Linked DNA regions of Homo sapiens. The protein of the gene in region 2 interacts with the protein of the main gene of each other region in a biochemical or structural test. Each region holds a gene or a part of one and is shown on either strand. Other genes may lie near its edges. The genes, in order: OR2AG1 and MPDZ.

Evidence for each region.
Region 1: the proteins of MPDZ (region 2) and OR2AG1 form a complex in vitro, tested with the Homo sapiens proteins (one study listed by IntAct).

The regions. Positions count from the first base shown.
Region 1 is NC_000011.10:6,787,909-6,792,284, forward strand, and holds the end of OR2AG1 (olfactory receptor 2AG1), read left to right. Parts: 3' UTR 1-3,650; downstream 3,651-4,376. UniProt on the Homo sapiens protein: Odorant receptor.
Region 2 is NC_000009.12:13,108,517-13,115,822, reverse strand, and holds part of MPDZ (multiple PDZ domain protein), read left to right. Parts: intron 1-488; coding exon 489-575; intron 576-1,801; coding exon 1,802-1,892; intron 1,893-2,768; coding exon 2,769-2,812; intron 2,813-3,676; coding exon 3,677-3,799; intron 3,800-5,082; coding exon 5,083-5,187; intron 5,188-5,758; coding exon 5,759-5,871; intron 5,872-6,763; coding exon 6,764-6,887; intron 6,888-7,306. UniProt on the Homo sapiens protein: Member of the NMDAR signaling complex that may play a role in control of AMPAR potentiation and synaptic plasticity in excitatory synapses. Promotes clustering of HT2RC at the cell surface.

The DNA.
Region 1 (4,376 bases), on a different chromosome or scaffold from region 2:
TTTCATGTTAAATTTTACATATAAGTAGTCTTCACTAATTGATAAGGTATAAAATTTGCCTATTTTAATTTGCTTAAGTAACTTGTCCACAGTTTTCTTATTGATTTGTTGAAGTTTTTTTACAGGTTAGGAACACGGAGACTTTGTTATATTTGTGGTAATAACTTCTTTTCAATTTGTTATTTGGCTTCTAATATCTGCATGGCAGAGATTTTTAGAAAGAGAAATATTTAAAATATTTGTATAGTGAAGGATATCTTTTATTTTTTTTTCCAGTGATTTTTACTGTTAGGATATAATTTTCTATTCTCATTGACGTCTTTGCTGTGCATCATACAGTTCAATTTAGGTAACAATTTATATATTTTATGTGTTTTGTCACTCTATATGTTTAACTTTAACAATAAATGTCAAACTTATCTTTACATGTGAAAATGATGATATTTCAACTTTTGTCAAAGGTACCATTTTTCTAGCAATATTTTAAAGTAATCCTTTCATTTTCTATTATTTTACTACCTTCATCAGACATGTTCTAGTAAGCTATATTTTGGCTAACTCTTCAGTTCTAGCTTCTTTCTCCTCTTTACTCTTTTGGAAGACATTTGATTCTATCATTCACATCTTAATAGCTCACTTGTAATTTGATTGTGAATATATTTAACTGATAAATTAATTTGTAATTTGAGCATTTTTTACAATACTCAGCCTTGCCTTCCTGAACATGGTGCATGACTATACTTCTGGAACCTAGTCTCAGTCAGTTTTAAAATGAACATTCCACACCATCATTCTAAGCTGATGCCTTGCCTCACACTTCACTAGAACAGAAGCAGTTGGCTACAAAGCCCTCTTCAAATCCTCCACATATCTGTGCCTGCGTGTACACTTCCTGTTTTCCCTCATTATAACTGCTTGAACCCGGGAGGCAGAGACTGCAGTGAGCCGAGATTGCACCACTGCACTCCAGCCTGGGCAACAGAGTGAGATTCTGTCACAAAATAAATAAATAAATAAATAAATAAATAAATAAATAAATAAATAAAGTAAGAAGTCTTTGCATGACTCCAATCCCCCTCAGTAACTGTAGCATTATTTTCAGCTTCTCTTCACAGGAAAAAAAAAAAATACAAAGGGAACACTTATGCCCATTTTCTCCTCTGCTGATCTTCTATTCGCATCTTAACACACTTTCAATCAAGCTCTGGTCTCTTTCTATGGACCTGTTCTTTGTGAAAATTATCATTAATGTGCTAAATAAAATGTCTACCTCCATATTCTCCTTCATCAACCTTTCAGCAACATTGATATAATTGACCTCACCCTTCTGTTGGGAAATTTTTCTTCTTTTGGCTTCCAGACACCACACAACTCTGGCTTGCTTCTTTAATCCCTAACCTTTTTTGCCTTATTGGATTCGTTTTTCTTTCTGAATGTTTCCACATTCAGATGATACAAACATGGACTTCCCTGTCTTCTCAATCAAGAATCTCTTCCTGAGTAATTTCATCCACTTACATAGATTTAAGTTCTGTCCATATGCTTTTGAGTCCCAAAGACCTCACTACTTGTATAATCCACAGACTCAAAAAATTAGCCGGGTGTGATGGTGGATGCCTGTAATTCCAGCTACACAGGAGGCTGAGGCAGGAGAATCGCTTGAACCTGGGAGGAGGAGGTTGCAGTGAGGCAAGATCGCGCCATTGCACTCCAGCTTGGGCAACAAGAGCGAAACCCCATCTCAGAAAACAAACAAACAAACAAACAAAAAAACAAAAAACAACGAGATATCACGTCTTGCCTGTTAGTATTATTTTTGAAAACCAAAAAAGTCAAAGCAAAACAAGTGTTGGTAGGTATGGGGAGAAAATGGAACCTGTGTACACAATTCATGGGAATGTAAAATGGTACAGCCATTATGGAAAACAGTATGGAGGTCTAAAGATTCAAACTATTACTACTGTATGATCCAAGATTCCCACTTCTGACTATATATCCAAAGGTAATTAAATCGCTGTTTCCAAGACATATTTGCACTCCATGTTTATTGCAGCATGATTCACAATAGACAAAATATTGGAAACAACCTAAGAGTCTATCAACAGACCAATGGATAAAGAAAATGTGGTCTATTTATACAATAGAATATTATTTACCCTTAAAAGGGAAGGACACTCTGTCATTTGCAATGAAATAGACCAACCTGGAGGACATTATGCTATGTGGAATAAGCCCAACACAGAAATACAAATGCTGTCTAATTTTGCTTAATGCGGAAGCTAGAAAAGAGTCTAACTCAGTAATAGAGAGTACAGTGGTGTTTGCCAAGGGTTTGGGGTGACTGTGGGAGGAAATGAAAAATATTAGTCAACAGATACAAACTTTTATTTTTAAGATGAATAATTTCTGAGGTTCCAACATATAGCATGGTGACTGAAGTTAATAAAAATGTGTACTTGAAATTTGCTGCAGAAGTAGATGTCACGTGTTCTCACAACACACACGCACAGAGGGTAAGTATGTAAGGTGATTGATATGTTGCTCTGTTAATTAGCTTGCATGTGGTCATCATTTCACAGGGTATACGTATATCAAATCATCACACTGTATACCTTAAATACATTCTAGTCATATTTGTCAACCATATCTCAATAAAGTTGGAAAAAAAAGAAAACTATGGGCAAATTATACATAATAATAAACATAAAAAATCATTTGAAAACATTTCTAAAGCTGCTTTGTCTTCATTATAGGAATGTAAAATATTACCTCTGCTGGAATATGAACTACACCCAGGATTTGAATAGTACAAATTAGATGAGACGACTTGCAGTGTAGAGCCCTCTAGGCTTTCAGCCTAGAACAGGAAGGAACGCAGAGTAATGACAGCAAACAGTGAAGCTATAGGATAATAATTCCTCCTCAGTGACAAGAGGCCCCACCACTGCTTTGGACTCCAGGAAGCACTCAGACATTAACATCTGTGAAGTGTGCCCTGCATGCTAAGAAAAGGGTGAACTGACAGACCCTTCTGTCCATCAAGTCATCCACAGCCTAGTTATTTCTGTCTCTGCTGCTAATTGTGCCAAAAGTAACCATAAAATCTGGAGTCAACTGCTAGAAGTTTTGCAAGAACAAAGGCCAAGGAGATGCACTTGTGTCTTGGTGAGTAGCCAAAGTTAGCTGCAGGGAGCTGAAGCAAGGGACTGAAAAAATGAGAAGTCTTAGAAAATGTTCTCCAGTCCTTGAGGATCTGAAGGCCTATGTGTGACTGATATTTGGTGGAGAAGAACGGACCTAGCTCTTTCCCCACTCCAACCAACCAAAATCTTTGTTGAAAGGCATATTGTGTATTGTCACTAATTCTGGGAAGGCGGGGGCCATTGGTTTTCATGAAGTGTGACTATGAAACATGAAAATCACACAAGGCAATCTTGATCTGAGGAATGCTTCTAAGAGAAAATGAATACACCTGCCCTATAGGCCCGCTTCTCTACCAAGCACACGGAGATGTCCACTTATTCTTGCTGGCACCAAATGGTGATATTCAAAAGAGCTGGCATAATTTTTTAGAGTTGCTAAGTATATAAAGCACTAACTTTATCAATTTTGTTAATTATACTTCACTTCATCTCTGTCTTATCAATTAGCTAAATAAAAACAGCATCAATTCATGAATATCATGATAATAAAAAAATTCAGGTAAATATTCAAAAAAGTCAAGTGTTAGCTGTACATATTATTGTAACTATAAAGGAAGGGAAAATATATCTTTATTTTATGAAAGCCAGTAAAATAAATCAAACTTCTCTTAAAATATTTGGTAAGGAAAAACTAACAACGTGTTTCTTTTTAAAATAAACTTCTAAATTTTGGAACAATATTAGGCTTACAGAAAAATTGCAAAGATGCTAAAGAGAGTTTTTCACACACCCATCTCTCAGTTTGTTTCTTCTAATATATTCATCCTTCATTAGCATACATACTTGTCAAAATAAGAAACCAAAATTGATACATCACTGTTAAACTATTCAGATTTTGCCATTTTATTCAGATTTTATTATCTTTTCTGTTAGTATTACTTTATGTTCCAGGGTCCAATCCAATATACCGTACTCCATATAGGTATCTTGTCTCTTTGACAAGCTTTGATCTGATATTTCTCAGTCTTTACTTGTTCATAACTGTAAGGGTTTTTTAATGAAGGGAAATAGGGTTTACAGAGCTGCAGAACAATTGTTATTTTTAAAATGCTGTTTATCAAGAAGGATTTTTGTTTCCTGATCCTGGTCAATGTGATGTTTTAGCAAACAGTGAAATACACTGGCTTATTAGTCTCAAATAAAAATTGTTAATCACAATCTAGAATTCACCTG
Region 2 (7,306 bases):
CAGGCGCCTGCCACCACGCCCAGCTATTTTTTTGTATTTTTAGTAGAGACAGGGTTTCACCATGTTAGCCAGGATGGTCTTGATCTCCTGACCTCGTGATCCACCCGCCTCGGCCTCCCAAAGTGGTGGGATTACAGTCGCTTTGTTTTTTAAACCCTCAGTTATTCAGCTTGTTTGTCCTATCAAAATTAGTGTGTTTCATGAGATAATTGCTCAATTCTCCATTTCTTTTTGGTACAAGTAGTCTCCATAGAAATCATGAGGTGATAAGGTAAACACTTGGTGTTGCTGCTGCTGATTATTTTTATTAGTTTGAATGTTTTATAAAAAGCCATTTTCCACAAGGGATTGGAGGTATCCTTGCTTATAGAAATTCCAAAAGGAAGATGCCTTTCAAAAAAGTCTTGAAGAGTAAAATGTATTCCTAAAGATGATTATAGCATTTTATTTAAACATTTCCATAAAACACCCCCCATGCCCACCCCCAGTGTTCCCTAGGCACAGTAACCTTGGAAGTTGGAAGAATCAAAGCTGGTCCATTCCATTCAGAGAGGAGGCCATCTCAAAGCAGCCAGGTGGGTAGCTGTGGAGTTCATCAGGGCGATGCAATCGGCATGCCAAGAGGACACATAGATGGCCCTGACTGTGGGTCTGTGTACAAGGTCTGGTCCCCTGGCAGCGTGGGATAGTGACTGAGGTGCAGAGTTTGAGACAGAGAAGAACAAGGAATCAGAATAGCCAGGTAAACAAGGTGTGGCTGTTGAGTAGTTTGTAAGTCATTCTAAGGAAATTGATTTCAAGCATTCTTTTTTGACATGATTCATTTTCCATAATCTCAAAAGGTAACTACCTAATTGTAAAGCCTACCAAGATAACAAATTTTTTATTATTTTATTTATTTTATTTATTTATTTATTTATTTTGAGACAGAGTCTCGCTCTGTCACCCAGGCTGGAGTGCAGTGGCACAATCTCAGCTCACTGCAACCTTCGCCTCCCGGGCGAAGTAGATTCTTCTGTCTCTACTTCCCGAGTAGCTGGGACTACAGGCGTGCACCACCATGCCTGGCTAATTTTTGTATTTTTATTAGAGATGGGGTTTCGCCATGTCAGCCAGGCTGGTCTCAAACGCCTGACCTCGTGATCCACCCGCCTCAGCCTCCCAAAGTGTTGGGATTACAGGCATGAGCCACCGTACCTGGCCCCAAGATAACATATTTTAAAAATATTTTATAGCAACATCAATCAATATTCAACTGAAAAGTCCCATATAAGTGAACTATAGATACTCAGCACCATGTATAAAAATATGATGTTAAATATTTCAAGACTCTTGACAAGACCTCTTGACCTTCTCCTCAGTGTTGTCTACTGATGATGGAAACCCATTTTCATCAGTCTGTCCTTAAAGACCCCATACTAACTTTCTAAATTACTACCATGAGTTTCCTATTAGCTGGCCCTAATTCTACAGTTTTTGTTTAAGTCCTAGTCTTCCTACAACATCAGTTTAAATTTAAAGAAGATTAGTTTGAATGAGATTATGACTATCCACTAAAATTTTAGGTAGATTGGAATCAATTTCATCTACCCTTTTAGCTTCAATTTATTTATGTCACTAGACACATTCTCTGTTTAAAAGAAAAAAAATCAGTAGGAACTGTGTTTAAATTGCTCATCAAATTATCAAATGCCACTGTTGCTTAACAGGTATCTGTCTCTAGATTAAATTCTGAAATAAGTGGTATTTAGGGAGTATGTTACTTGCAAAACCTTCTGAAATAATTGTTGTATATTTGTAGGTGAGTGAAGGCAGCCTGTCATCTTTCACTTTTCCACTCTCTGGATCCAGTACATCTGAGTCACTGGAAAGTAGCTCAAAGAAGAATGCATGTAAGATTGGTTCAGTATTTTAAACATGGTTTGAATTTGGCTGTCAACACTGATTTTTTTGTCTTGTTTACCTCTGAGCTTTCTTTTCCCCCAAATCATCCCATATCCAAATATAGGTACAAAAACACGTGTTAGCAAAAAGTCTGAACAACATGAAGTTCTGCCTATGGCAGCTTTTCCCATTTGATGTTTACCCTACAAGATACACTAAACATTATAATCAGGATTCTGTAATTTTTTTTTCTTACTAAGCAGATTGGTGTTTTTGATTTTATTCCTTTTCTGTGTTTAATGTAACACCAGTAAATCAGAAGATGCCATTAAGTGAAGCCTTCTTTTTCCATGAAGATTGCAAAAATTTGAGAAAATTAATGTGATCCTCCTGTGTTTTAATTACGTGAAATCATGCTGCAGAGGGATTTTTGGCTTGGTGCATTGGTTGAGAGTTGTTCAAATTGAAGAAACTAACAATATGGCAATCTCTGTTTGCAGTATGACTAATATTCTAGAAATTTAGGCACTTAAATTTGTGAATTTTTTTAATGCATCCATGACTTTATTCCTCTCAGCCGTGCACATGTGCCTTTCTATGCAAAACACATTCTGCCCTTGACTCATTCAAAGTGGATTACATAGTTATATAATCAACACTTAAAATGAGAAGGAAGAATGGGATGGTATACACGTTTTTCCAACTGGAAAAATAAATAGTTCTGTGTAAGACAGATCTAATCATGTGTACTAGCAGCTTTGAGCACCCCCTTAAAAAAAGAAACCTAGGTTATCATTTAGTCCCATCCAGCTTTAGATATTTTAACGAACATAAAAAGTGAATGAACATAAAATAACCCTATTTTATCTTTTTTGCCTTTACAGTGGCATCTGAAATACAGGGATTAAGAACAGTCGAAATGAAAAAGGTAACTTGGGGAGAGAAAACAATATAAACCCTGGCGTTTTAAGAGACATCTTCATATGTGTTTTCTTGTTAACTTTCTTACGGTTTTAAAGTATTCATCTCAAAAAGTATGTATTCTTACATATTACATGTGAAATAACATAATGTAGTCCTTAATGAATTTCCTGATCACAGCACCTCATTTGAAAAATCGTTGTTTGCATGCTCTGTTTTGCTGAAAATAGCATAAAATTGACCCCACACAAAATAATACCATGCCTCTCACTTCTTATAAGTAAACCTTTCTCTTCAACAGATACTTATTAGTTCTGAAACAGATTCCCTTGACAGCCATGCACAAGAGACAAAGTAAAAGCAGCTGTGATTTATTGAGCTTTTACTATTGTTCTGAGCACTCTTATAGACACTTCATGTCATCATCATGTCATTTAATATTCACTGCAGCCCTCTGTGAGAGGCACTGTTGTCTCCATTTTGTAAATGAAGATCTAATGATTTATTGAGTGGAGTGGACTTATTCCAAGTTCCAGCATTTGCAAGTATGACTTCGTGGCTTTGAACACAGGACTCTGATTCCAAAAGTGTGGTCTTTTCACTTCATGAGTTTACCTGCTTTTCATCAGTTCCACAACATGATTTTCATTTAGCATGTCTTGATTTATTTTACTTCCTGAACAGATGCTTATTTTCCTAAGCCACGCTAAGCACCTGTGTCAAGTAAAGTAATGCAGTTTTCTTGCACTTCTTCATTTTCCCCCTCACACTTAGAAAATCAGAGTTGACTATAGATATCATGCCAAAGAATAAACAAAAGGTCAATGAAAAATATCACTTTGACCAAAATTTTATATCTGTTCCATGGCAGGGCCCTACTGACTCACTGGGAATCAGCATCGCTGGAGGAGTAGGCAGCCCACTTGGTGATGTGCCTATATTTATTGCAATGATGCACCCAACTGGAGTTGCAGCACAGACCCAAAAACTCAGAGTGAGTCGTACTATCAACCCTAGAAGCCCTAGCAAAATGTGCAGAAGTGTTTTTATAAACCTTTGAACCTGGCTACCTGTTGCAAGGCAGTTTTAAATATCTATATTTACTTTTAAATCATCTAATCCAACCACAGCAAGGCTTGCTTGGAATAAAAGATAAAGAATATTAAAAGAAAGGAGAAAATGCAGATTTGCAGTTAAATAGGAAGATTTATAGTTGTTTCCTAATACATATTTTTATATGTTGAAATTCTGTGGAACAAGCTAAAAGAGAACAGAAAGTATTTTCAGAACACCAGTATGAAGTGAAATTTTTATCTTATATATTTGATTGGTTTAAACGCCGATTTAACTCTGTTAAATTGAAAAGTATTACTTATTTGCATTCACTGATAATTTTGCAGAAGTTTAATATAAATATGACTTACAATGTTATAAAACTATATGCAACTTGCCTCAAAGCTGAGGGATTATCCAAATTGTGGAGCATTGCAATGGAATTTATGCCAACTGCCCAGCTCTAAAAATTACATGAATATTCCATTAACGCAACTCAGTCTCTCTAAAGCAAAATCTCTATGGTTTCATACCTCAAATAGGTCTCAGAACATAACCACATTTTAGTTTAAATAGTCTTTAGGCTGGGAATGGTTCAGCCTCGTTTGATATCCAAATTTATGGCTGACACTTAAAACCTGATTGTATACATAGCACAGGGTCAGTAAACTTCTGGAAGGACAGATACTGAATATTTTAGGCTTTGTGGGACCTGTGAGTCTCTGTTGCAACTACTCAACTCTGCGCTGTGAAAGCAGCCAAATAAGCATGGCTGTCTTCCAACCAGACTTTATTAACCAAAACAGGCAGTGGGCCAAATTTGGCCTCTGGGCCTTAGTTTGCCAACCTCCGACTTAGAGTCACATCTAATGATTATAATAGTAATGTCCAGAGAAATTTCAGTTTCCAAATGATAGTGAATTTTTTTTTCTTTTAATAGGAAGTAATGTCTCACCCAAGAGAAATGAAGAGCAGGGAAGAGTGACTTTCTCCTTCTCCCTCCCTCTCCCCTGGATATGGAACTCAACCATTATGCACTGCTTCTTTTTGTGGTTGCTGCTTTTTGGACTTCTTGGAATTAGTGGTTTCCTTGGTTATATTTCAGTGGCTGGTAGCAGTATATATGTCATGTGGAAGGTGGAGAAGGAAATGAATACTTAGGTCTCAAAGACCCACTCTCCATGGCTGCTTTAGCAGATGGCTGTTTCTTTCTCTCCCTTGCAGGTTGGGGATAGGATTGTCACCATCTGTGGCACATCCACTGAGGGCATGACTCACACCCAAGCAGTTAACCTACTGAAAAATGCATCTGGCTCCATTGAAATGCAGGTAAGATTTTTATCCCAAGCATAATTCAGAATATAGGTAGCCTGAAGACACATGAGCTTTGATGTTAAAGCAGTAAAAATGATTAAATCTTCTGCTATTATTTTATTTAATATTTCTCTTGAACATAAATGATTAAATTAAGAGTTCCAATAAAGTGCATATGAGACATATTTTGTAACATTTTACTCTGATGCATTGATTGTTTTATACTTTAAGGGGAAAAAAATCCAGGCCTTAGCAGTACATGATTATTTGCTGGAATTTTAAGTGGTGCTAGCAAGTGGCTTATATTCTAAAGATCTTTAAAAAGTAATTACATATGAGACCACATTTTAAAAACATCAAAGAACTTTGTAGAATAGAATTAGAAGAATATGTTTACTGTCAGGACAGTTAAGAGCCTCTGGACCTTGTGAAATTTCATTCTCTTTGGTTGTATTTTATGTTAACAGAAATGTTTAAATGAACAATAAAATATACATTTTAATCCAAGTGCTCTTTCTGAAGAAAAATTACTTTCCCTAGCCACAGGAACATGTGTTTTTTCTGTTTATCCTCCTCCTGTGCGCAGGTGGTTGCTGGAGGAGACGTGAGTGTGGTCACAGGTCATCAGCAGGAGCCTGCAAGTTCCAGTCTTTCTTTCACTGGGCTGACGTCAAGCAGTATATTTCAGGATGATTTAGGGTGAGTTCATACATGATGATTAGTGTATCATTTTTCACTTATGAATCAAGTCTTCCTGACAGTTGCGTTCTCTGTCCCATGTTTCTAGGAATTACGTACAGGTAAAATGATAGGATATATGAAGTGTGAATTATACATATCAGGTGCTTCTAAACTTAAATAATTGTGGCATGGATTTAGCTGATCAAAGATAAGTAGAGATAGATAACTAGCTAGATAGATATGCGTGCTACTACCCTTCCCATGGTTTCAGCTCTGATTTTGGGGCGGAGGACATTTTAGTCTTGATGTTACCACTTCATGTAATATGGAGCAAGTCAAATCTATCATTTTAAAATTTCCCGCACTGCCTATTCATCTAATATATTATCATTTGGACTGAAAAAATTCACAGTATTAAGTAACAATACTTGGATACAAAAGCATTGGAAAACAGAGGAGAAGAGAGAGGCGCATTAGAAATTTTAAATAATTTGATGCAGCTTTTCCATTGCTTATAATTGATTTTTCTCTCTGAGCTTGGGCGTACTGATGTTTATGACTTATTCTAATATAGTCCCCTGAACTTTAGCCCTCTCACTTTAAATAAACTGGAAAAAGAATGAGCTTCTCTGTACAATGAGAACATGCCATGAATATGTTAGTTTAAGGGAACTGTAAATGAGTAATAGAATTAGGGTGTTAAGTAGGATTTCATTAGATTATGTAAATTTAAAATACCAAGCACAGCATGCACTGACAATTTAAGCATCTCAAAAATACCCGTAATATACTCCTTGTCAGTAACAAAGAGAATTATGCTAGCTCTAGGTGGATGTCAGATAATTCATAACATATATGTATAGTTTTTTTTTTTTAATTTAAAACCTCTTTTTCCTTTCCTTCACCGTAGACCTCCTCAATGTAAGTCTATTACACTAGAGCGAGGACCAGATGGCTTAGGCTTCAGTATAGTTGGAGGATATGGCAGCCCTCATGGAGACTTACCCATTTATGTTAAAACAGTGTTTGCAAAGGTAAGCTTGCAAATTTTAACCACCCTCTTTTCCCCTAAACATTCATTAATAGTGGTCAGCAGCTGGCTTATTAGTTTATGGCCTGAGGTAATGCCAAATGGTTAACAGTTGATCATTTCTTTTCAAAACTCCCTACAGGAACAGGTCATTAAATATTTTTGTCCAATTTGAGGTTTCATTATATTTAAAGGAAAATAGGCTCAAATTGAAACTCCATGGAAACTCAACAATATACATAAAAATATTAATGAACTTTGGTTAGTAAAGCCTATTTTTTTTTCTTTGAACACAAATTGCACATGATCGTCTTTTGAAAATGGGACATTTTAAATAAGTATGCTGTAGAGCACTGGTATTTCTGTTTGCATTTTTTTGTTGTGAAATATAAAATAGTTATAGAGAAGTACATAAAGTACACA